2 linked regions of the Homo sapiens genome follow. The protein of the gene in region 1 purifies or fractionates together with the protein of each later gene. This does not show direct contact. Each region holds a gene or a part of one and is shown in the gene's direction. Other genes may lie near its edges.

What was found. Proteins that work in one complex are often made in the same cells at the same time.
Region 2: the proteins of PLIN3 (region 1) and IMPA2 fractionate together in Homo sapiens (co-fractionation; one large-scale study listed by BioGRID). This does not show direct contact.

The regions. Positions count from the first base shown.
Region 1 is NC_000019.10:4,847,022-4,850,673, reverse strand, and holds part of PLIN3 (perilipin-3), read left to right. Parts: intron 1-2,783; coding exon 2,784-2,983; intron 2,984-3,652. UniProt on the Homo sapiens protein: Structural component of lipid droplets, which is required for the formation and maintenance of lipid storage droplets. Required for the transport of mannose 6-phosphate receptors (MPR) from endosomes to the trans-Golgi network.
Region 2 is NC_000018.10:12,001,935-12,005,586, forward strand, and holds part of IMPA2 (inositol monophosphatase 2), read left to right. Parts: intron 1-3,652. UniProt on the Homo sapiens protein: Phosphatase that can use myo-inositol monophosphates, myo-inositol 1,4-diphosphate, scyllo-inositol-1,4-diphosphate, glucose-1-phosphate, beta-glycerophosphate and 2'-AMP as substrates in vitro.

The DNA.
Region 1 (3,652 bases):
TCACAGGTTCAGGAGATCGAGACCATCCTGGCTAACACAGTGAAACCCCATCTCTACTAAAAAAAAAAAAAAAAAAAAAAAAAAAATTAGCCGGGCGTGGTGGCGGGTGCCTGTAGTCCCAGCTACTCGGGAGACTGAGGCAGGAGAATGGCATGAACCTGGGAGGCGGAGCTTGCAGTGAGCCGAGATCATGCCACTCCACTCCAGCCTGGGCAATAGAGCTAGACGCCGTCTCAAAAAAATAATAATAATAAAATAAACATTAGCCAGGTGCGGTGGCAGGCGTCTGTAATCCCAGCTACTTGGGAGGCAGAGGTTGCAGTGAGCCAAGATTGGGCCGCTGCACTCCAGCCTGGGCGACAGAGTGAGACTCCATCTCAAAAAAAAAAAAGCATGGGTACAGTAGGAGCAGGATTAAATAAATACATGCAGCTGGGCGCAGTGGCTCATGGCTGTAATCCCAGTACTTTGGGAGGCTGAGGCGGGTGGAGGTTGAGGTCGGGAGTTCGAGACAAGCCTGACCAACATAAAGAAACCCTATCTCTACTAAAAATACAAAATTAGCCAGGCATGGTGGCGCATCCCTGTAATCCCAGCTAACTCGGGAGGCTGAGGCAAGAGAATGGCTTGAATCTGGGAGGCAGAGCTTGTGGTGAGCCAAGACTGCGCCATTGCACTCCAGCCCAGGCAACAAGAGTGAAACTCCATCTCAAAAAAAATAAAGGCCAGGTGTGGTGACTCATGCCTGTAATCCCAGCACTTTCGGAGGCTGAGGCAGCTGGATCACATGGTCAGGAGTTTGAGACCAGCCTGGCCAACATGGTGAAACCCCATCTCTACTAAAAATACAAAAATTAGCCAAGCATGGTGGCACATTCCTGTAATCCCAGCTACTCAGGAGGCTAAGGCAGGAGAATCACTTGAACCCGGGAGGCGGAGGTTGCAGTGAGCCGAGATCATGCCATTGCACTCCAGCCTGGGCAACAGAGTGAGACTCTGTCTCAAAAAAATAAATAAATAAATAAATAAGTAAATAAATACATGCATATACACATATGAACCTACGAACATGGGATGAGGCCAGGCGTGGTGGCTCACACCTGTCATCCCAGCACTTTGGTGGGAGGATTAGTTAAGCCCAGTAGTTCCAGACCAGCCTGGACAACATAGACCCCATCTCTACAAAAAATTTAAAAATTAGCTGGGTGTGCTAGTGCACGCCTGTAGTCCCAGTTGCTATTTGGGAGCTGAGACAGGAGGATCACTTGAGCCTGGGAGTTCAAGGCTACAGTGAGCTATGATTGCACCGCTGCACTCCAGCCTGGGCAACAGAGCGAGACTGTACTTCAAAATATAAAAACCGACAAAACAAACAGATCTAAACATAGAAAAGGTACAGGAAGCCAGGTGCAATGGCTCACACCTGTAAACCTAGCACTTTGGGAGTCTGAGGCGAGCAGATTGCTTGAGTCCAGGATTTCAAGACCAGCCTGGGCAACATAGTGAGACCCCATTCCTACAAAAAGTACAAAAATTAGCCAGGTGTCTTGCCGTAGTCCCAGCTTTATGTAGTCCCAGCTACTCGGGAGGCCAAGGTTGAAGGATAGCTTGAAGCTGGGAGGTTGAGCCTGCAGTAAGCTGAGGTCGTGCCACTGTACTCCAGCCTGGGCAACAGACCGAGACCCTGTCTAAAAAAAAGAAGAAAAAGTACAGGAAAAATACGGTATATATGGTATTATAATCTTATGGGACCACTGTAGTATATGCAGTCCATTGTTGGCTGAAATGTCATTATTCTCTTTTTTTTTTGAGACGGAGTCTCACTCTCACCCAGGCTGGAGTGCAGTGGTGTGATCTTGGCTCACTGCAGCCTCCACCTCCCGGGTTCAAGCGATTCTCCTGCCTCAGCCTCCTAAGTAGCTGAGATTACAGGCTAGTGCCATCACGCCTGGCTAATTTTTGTATTTTTAGTAGAGATGGGGTAGTGCCATGTTGGCCAGGCTAGTCTTGAACTCCTGACCTCAAGTGATCTGCCCGCCTTGGCCTCCCAAAGGGCTGGCATTACTGGCATGAGCCACTGCACCCGGCCTACGGTATTATAATCTTATGGGACCTCTGTAGTATATGTGATGTATTGCTGGCTGGAATGCTGTTATTCTCTGCAGGACTGCATAATGAACATTCAGGCCTATATTCACAGGTTGTCCAAGGCAGGTCTGGCCTGCAGGCCATAGCTTGAGACCCTCCTGCTAGTCTAAGGTCTCTGATTCCTGTGAGGTTTAATTTTCCTTATCCCCGTTTTGCAGATAGGGAAAACCAAGGCAGAATCCTTTGCTCCCAGGCCTTCGAGGTTTATAAGAAGTAGAACTGGGTTATAAACTGGACAGCATGGCCAGGTGTGGTGGCTCACGCCTATAATCACAGCACTTTTGGAGGCCAGTTCGGATGAATCACTGGAGATCAGGAGTTCGAGACCAGCCTGGCCAACATGGTGAAACCCCGTCTCTACTAAAAATACAAAAATTAGCTGGGCATGGTGGCGGGCGCCTGTAATCTCAGTTACTCGGGAGGCTGAGGCAGGATAATCACTTGAACCCGGGAGGCAGAGGTTGCAGTGAGCCGAGATGACACCACTGCACTCCAACCTGGGCGACAGAGCGAGACTCCATCTCTAAATAAATAAATAAATAAACTGGACAGTGTGATTCTTGGGACTGTCTGCATGGGACGAGCCCAGCTGTGTGTTCTGGTCTTCACAGAGACCCTTCTCCTTTTCCTTGCAGCCCGCATCGCCACATCCCTGGATGGCTTTGACGTCGCGTCCGTGCAGCAGCAGCGGCAGGAACAGAGCTACTTCGTACGTCTGGGCTCCCTGTCGGAGAGGCTGCGGCAGCACGCCTATGAGCACTCGCTGGGCAAGCTTCGAGCCACCAAGCAGAGGGCACAGGAGGCTCTGCTGCAGCTGTCGCAGGTCCTAAGCCTGGTGAGGTTCCAGGGGGTCGGGGCCCTGAGCCAGCAGCCTTCACCCCGCAGCAGACACCCACCCAGAGCTCAGTGGCTTATTGCTCACCCCTCTGCAGGCTGGCAGGGCCATTCCCGCTTGCTCCTGGCACTGTATCTGGTTGTACACTCATTTGCTCAGGATGCTGCCACAAACCACACTGTCTGGGGCCGGGCACAGTGGCTCACACCTCTTTGTGTGAGTCCCTCAAGTGCTTTGGGAGCCCAAGGCAGGAGGATCGCATGAGTCCAGGGGTTTGAGACCCACCTGGGCAATATAGCAAGACCCCATCTCTACAAAAAATAATTTAAAACAATTAGCTGGCTGTGGTGGTGCGTGCCTGTAATCTCAGCTACTTGGGAGGCTGAGGTGGGACGATTGCTTGAGCCCAGGAGTTGGAGGCTGCAGTGAGCTATGATTGTGCCACTGCACTGCAGCCTAGTCAACAGAGCAAGACCCCATCTCAAAAAAAAAAAAAAAATCGTGGCCAGGTGCGGTGGCTCATGCCTGTAATCCCAGCACTTTGGGAGGCTGAGGCGGGTGGATCACGAGGTCAGGAGTTCAAGACCAGCCTGGCCAACATGGTGAAACCCCATCTCTACTAAAAATACAAAAATTAGCCAGGTACAATGGCAGGCACCTGTAATCCCA
Region 2 (3,652 bases), on another chromosome or scaffold:
CCCATCTTCCCTAGCTCTGAGGGTGAATGTGTGGACACGGTGAAAGCAGCTGTTCTCTTCTCTGCTCAGTGTGCCTCAAAAATTGACATCAAATGCAGTTGTTTTTCAACATATTTATGTGAAGTGAGTTTTTTTTGCCAATGACTAAGATTAAAAAGAAAGTAAATTTTGGGGATTTAATTGTATTTTAGATCATAGAAAAGTTGATAAATTTGTGATGAGAGAAAATTGTATACATATTGTAAAATAGGACATTGTGATTTTTTTCTGCTTTCTAAGTATTTAAATATATCCCTTAAACAATATATTTAATTTGAAGTTGCCTCTCATCCTCCTTTAGGAAAGACTTTTATTCTGAGCTTTTCTCTTTCCTTGATTTTAGTCTTTCATGAAATGATATTAAAAATAGACTTAATAACATTTTTTTAAAAACCTGATACAGGCTCCCCAGTTTTATTATTTTATTTCACTCATCCATGAAATCCAAAGGTTTGCTCCTTGACCTGGAAGACAGGTGTAGACTGAATCAAAGAATGATAAGGTTTAAACTTCCTTCTGGTGGGGTGCAGTGGCTCATGTCTGTAATACTAGCACTTCAGGAGCCCAAGGTCAGAGGATTGCTTGAGCCCAGGAGTTTGAGACCAGCCTGGGCAACATGGTGAATCCCCATCTCTACAAAAAAATTAAAAAATCAGCTGGGCATGCTGGTGCACGCTTATGCTCCCAGCTACTTGGAAGGCTGAGGTGAGAGGCTCGCTTGAGTCCTGGAGGTCGAGTTGTGATGCTGCCACTGCAGTCTAGCCTGGGTGACAGAGCAAGACCTTGTCTCAAAAAAAAAAAAAAAAAATGTAGATTAAAAGGAACCCTTGCAGACTGTTGGTGAGAATGTAAATTGATGCAGCCGCTATGAAAAACCCCACTGCACTGCAGCCTGGGCAACAGAGTGAGACCCTGCCTCAAAACAAAAAAATAAATAGGCTGGGCGCGGTGGTTTACACCTGTAATCCCTGCACTTTGGGAGGCCGAGGCGGGTGGATCACCTGAGGTCAGGAGTTCGAGACCAGCCTGGCCAACATGGTGAAACCCCCATCTCTACTAAAAATACAAAAAATTAGCTGGGCATGGTAGTGCGTGCCTGTAATCCCAGCTACTCAGGAGGCTGAGGCAGGAGAATCGCTTGAACCTGGGAGGTGGAGGTTACAGTGAGCTGAGATCACGCCACTGCACTCCAGCCTGGGGAACAAGAGCAAAACTCTGTCTCAAAAAATAAAAAATAAATAAATAAAATTGCTTCTGTCACTGGCCCTAGCAGCTTTGGCAAATCTCACCACTTAGGGCCTCGAACTCCTCACCTGTGAATGAGGGACCTGACCATGGTCATCCCTGAAGTCCCAGCATTTAACTCGTAACATGACAAAAAGCAAACCAGGGCTGGGCACAGAGGCTCACACCTGTAATCCCAGCACTTTCAGAGGCCGAGGTGGGTGGATAGCTTGAGATCAGGAGTTCGAGACCAGCTTGGCCAATATGATGAAACCCCGTCTCTACTAAAAATAGGAAAACAAATTAGCTGGGCCATGGTGGCGCATGCCTGTAGTCCCAGCTACTTGGAAGGTTGAGACAGGAGAATCGCTTGAACCTGGGAAGTGGAGGTTGCAGTGAGCTGAGATTGCACCATTGCACTCCAGCCTGGGCATCTCAGTGAGACTCCATCTTAAAAAAAAAAAAAAGAAAAGGAAAAAAAAAAAAAAAGGCAGCATGGTAAGGCCGGGTTTTTATAGATTGGGTCTTTGGAGTGTGCTGTTGGCCTTGGCCACATAGCTGTCTCCTGCCATGCCCTGGCTTTGTGGGGCGCCTAAACCTGTTTTCAGATGATGATTTTGAGTGAGATACAAGTGTAGCTACTTGGAAAAGATTCAGTAGCATCCCTGAGCTATAGTGATAGAAACCCCGTCCTTGTCCCTTCTGTGGAGCAGCCTGTTGGAGCTTCTCTGGGTTGGCCTAGGCCCAGAGATGAGGTCAGCAGCTCAAGGGTCTAGTGTTTTTAGCTGTCTTCCCAGCCCTGCTCCAGAGCCCCCATGTAACCTGCTGCCCTGCAGTGCCCAGCACAGAGCAGTGTCTGTTGAATGCGTGAGTCAAGCAAAACATCAAACAGAATCCTTGACATGGGAAAAACATGCTCCCAGCCACCACCAGCTGAACATTGACATCCAGCTGCTTTCCCACTGGGCAGTGGCTTGTGAAGATGGGGACAGAGTATCATAAATCATCTCCTTTGTGGACAGCAGGGATGATCCTGACCTTCTTGTCACAGACTAAACAGACTAAGTAGCCAGAAGAAAAAAAAAGAAAGAAAGAAAAAAGGGGCTTAAAGGCACTCAGCTGTCAAAATTATAAGGAGGGTTTGTTAAAACTATTTTTTAAAAAAGAAAAGTGGTTAAGTTATGCAGTAGGATATAATATTCTATAATAACTTATTACCAAACTTTTAGCCTTAATCCAGTTGCTATTTTCCTCTTGTCTATTGGATAGACGTATGGAATGTTCTTTTTTTCCCTAAATTTAGTCATGTGCATTTTTTTTCCTATTTATATTGTGGGTTTTTTTTTTTTTTGAGATGGAGTCTTGCTCTGTAGCCCAGACTGGAGTGCAGTGGTGCAATCTCTGCTCACTGCAACCTCCGCCTCCCGGGTTCAAGCGATTCTCCTGCCTTCCAAGTATCTGGGATTACAGGCATGCACCACTATGTCTGGGTAATTTTCATATTTTTAGTAGAGACGGGGTTTCACCATGTTGGCCAGTCTGGTCTTGAACTCCTGACCTCAAGTGATCCACCCACCTCAGCCTCCCAAAGTGCTGGGATTACAGGCGTGAGCCACCGTGCCCTGCCTATATTGTGGATTCTATGTAGATGTTCCAGTGGCTTTTAGGAAGGTCTTTATGATTTCACACATCTGTCTACAGTCATGTCTGCAGAGCAGACTCTCCCCACTCCCTCTGCAGACAGCTGTAAAACATTGTCTTTCATCTCACAGGTATTAGCTTCCTACATGAGTAAAATCAGGTTTAAGTGAATAAAAATTGTGCATCTCTTCCCATGTACCAGGGAAGTATTTTTGGTGCCTCCAAAGACCGAGCACGGTTCACGCCTCTGCTGGCCTTCACACCGCTGCAGCCACACAGTGCAGAAGCCTGCTCCCTGCTGCCCACAAGCATGAGGCAGGTGGGAAGGGGGATGCTCGTGCCACCTTGTAGGCGGGCAGGCAGTCTCATGGGCAGAGGTGTACACAAGGTGGGTGATGAGGAAGACAGCTCTAGGGTATGAATGATCAGCTGCTGAAAAACATCCAGTGCTCAGTGTGGGTACTTAGAGTTATTCTCATAAAAAATGTGAGGCAGAGTTAGTCAGGTGTGGTGATGCATGCCTGTGGTCCCAGCTACTCAGGAGGCTGAGGCAGGAGGATTGCTTGAGCCCAGTGGTTTGTGGCTTCAGTGAGCCATGATTGTGCCACTGCACTCCAGCCTGGCTGACAAAGCGAGACCATGTCTCCAAGAAAAAAAAAAAAAATTTCTAAAAGTACTTGCTGGGTTACACTAAATGAAACCTAAAAAACAAATAGATAAATAATAAAGGTTACACACAGCAGAAGCT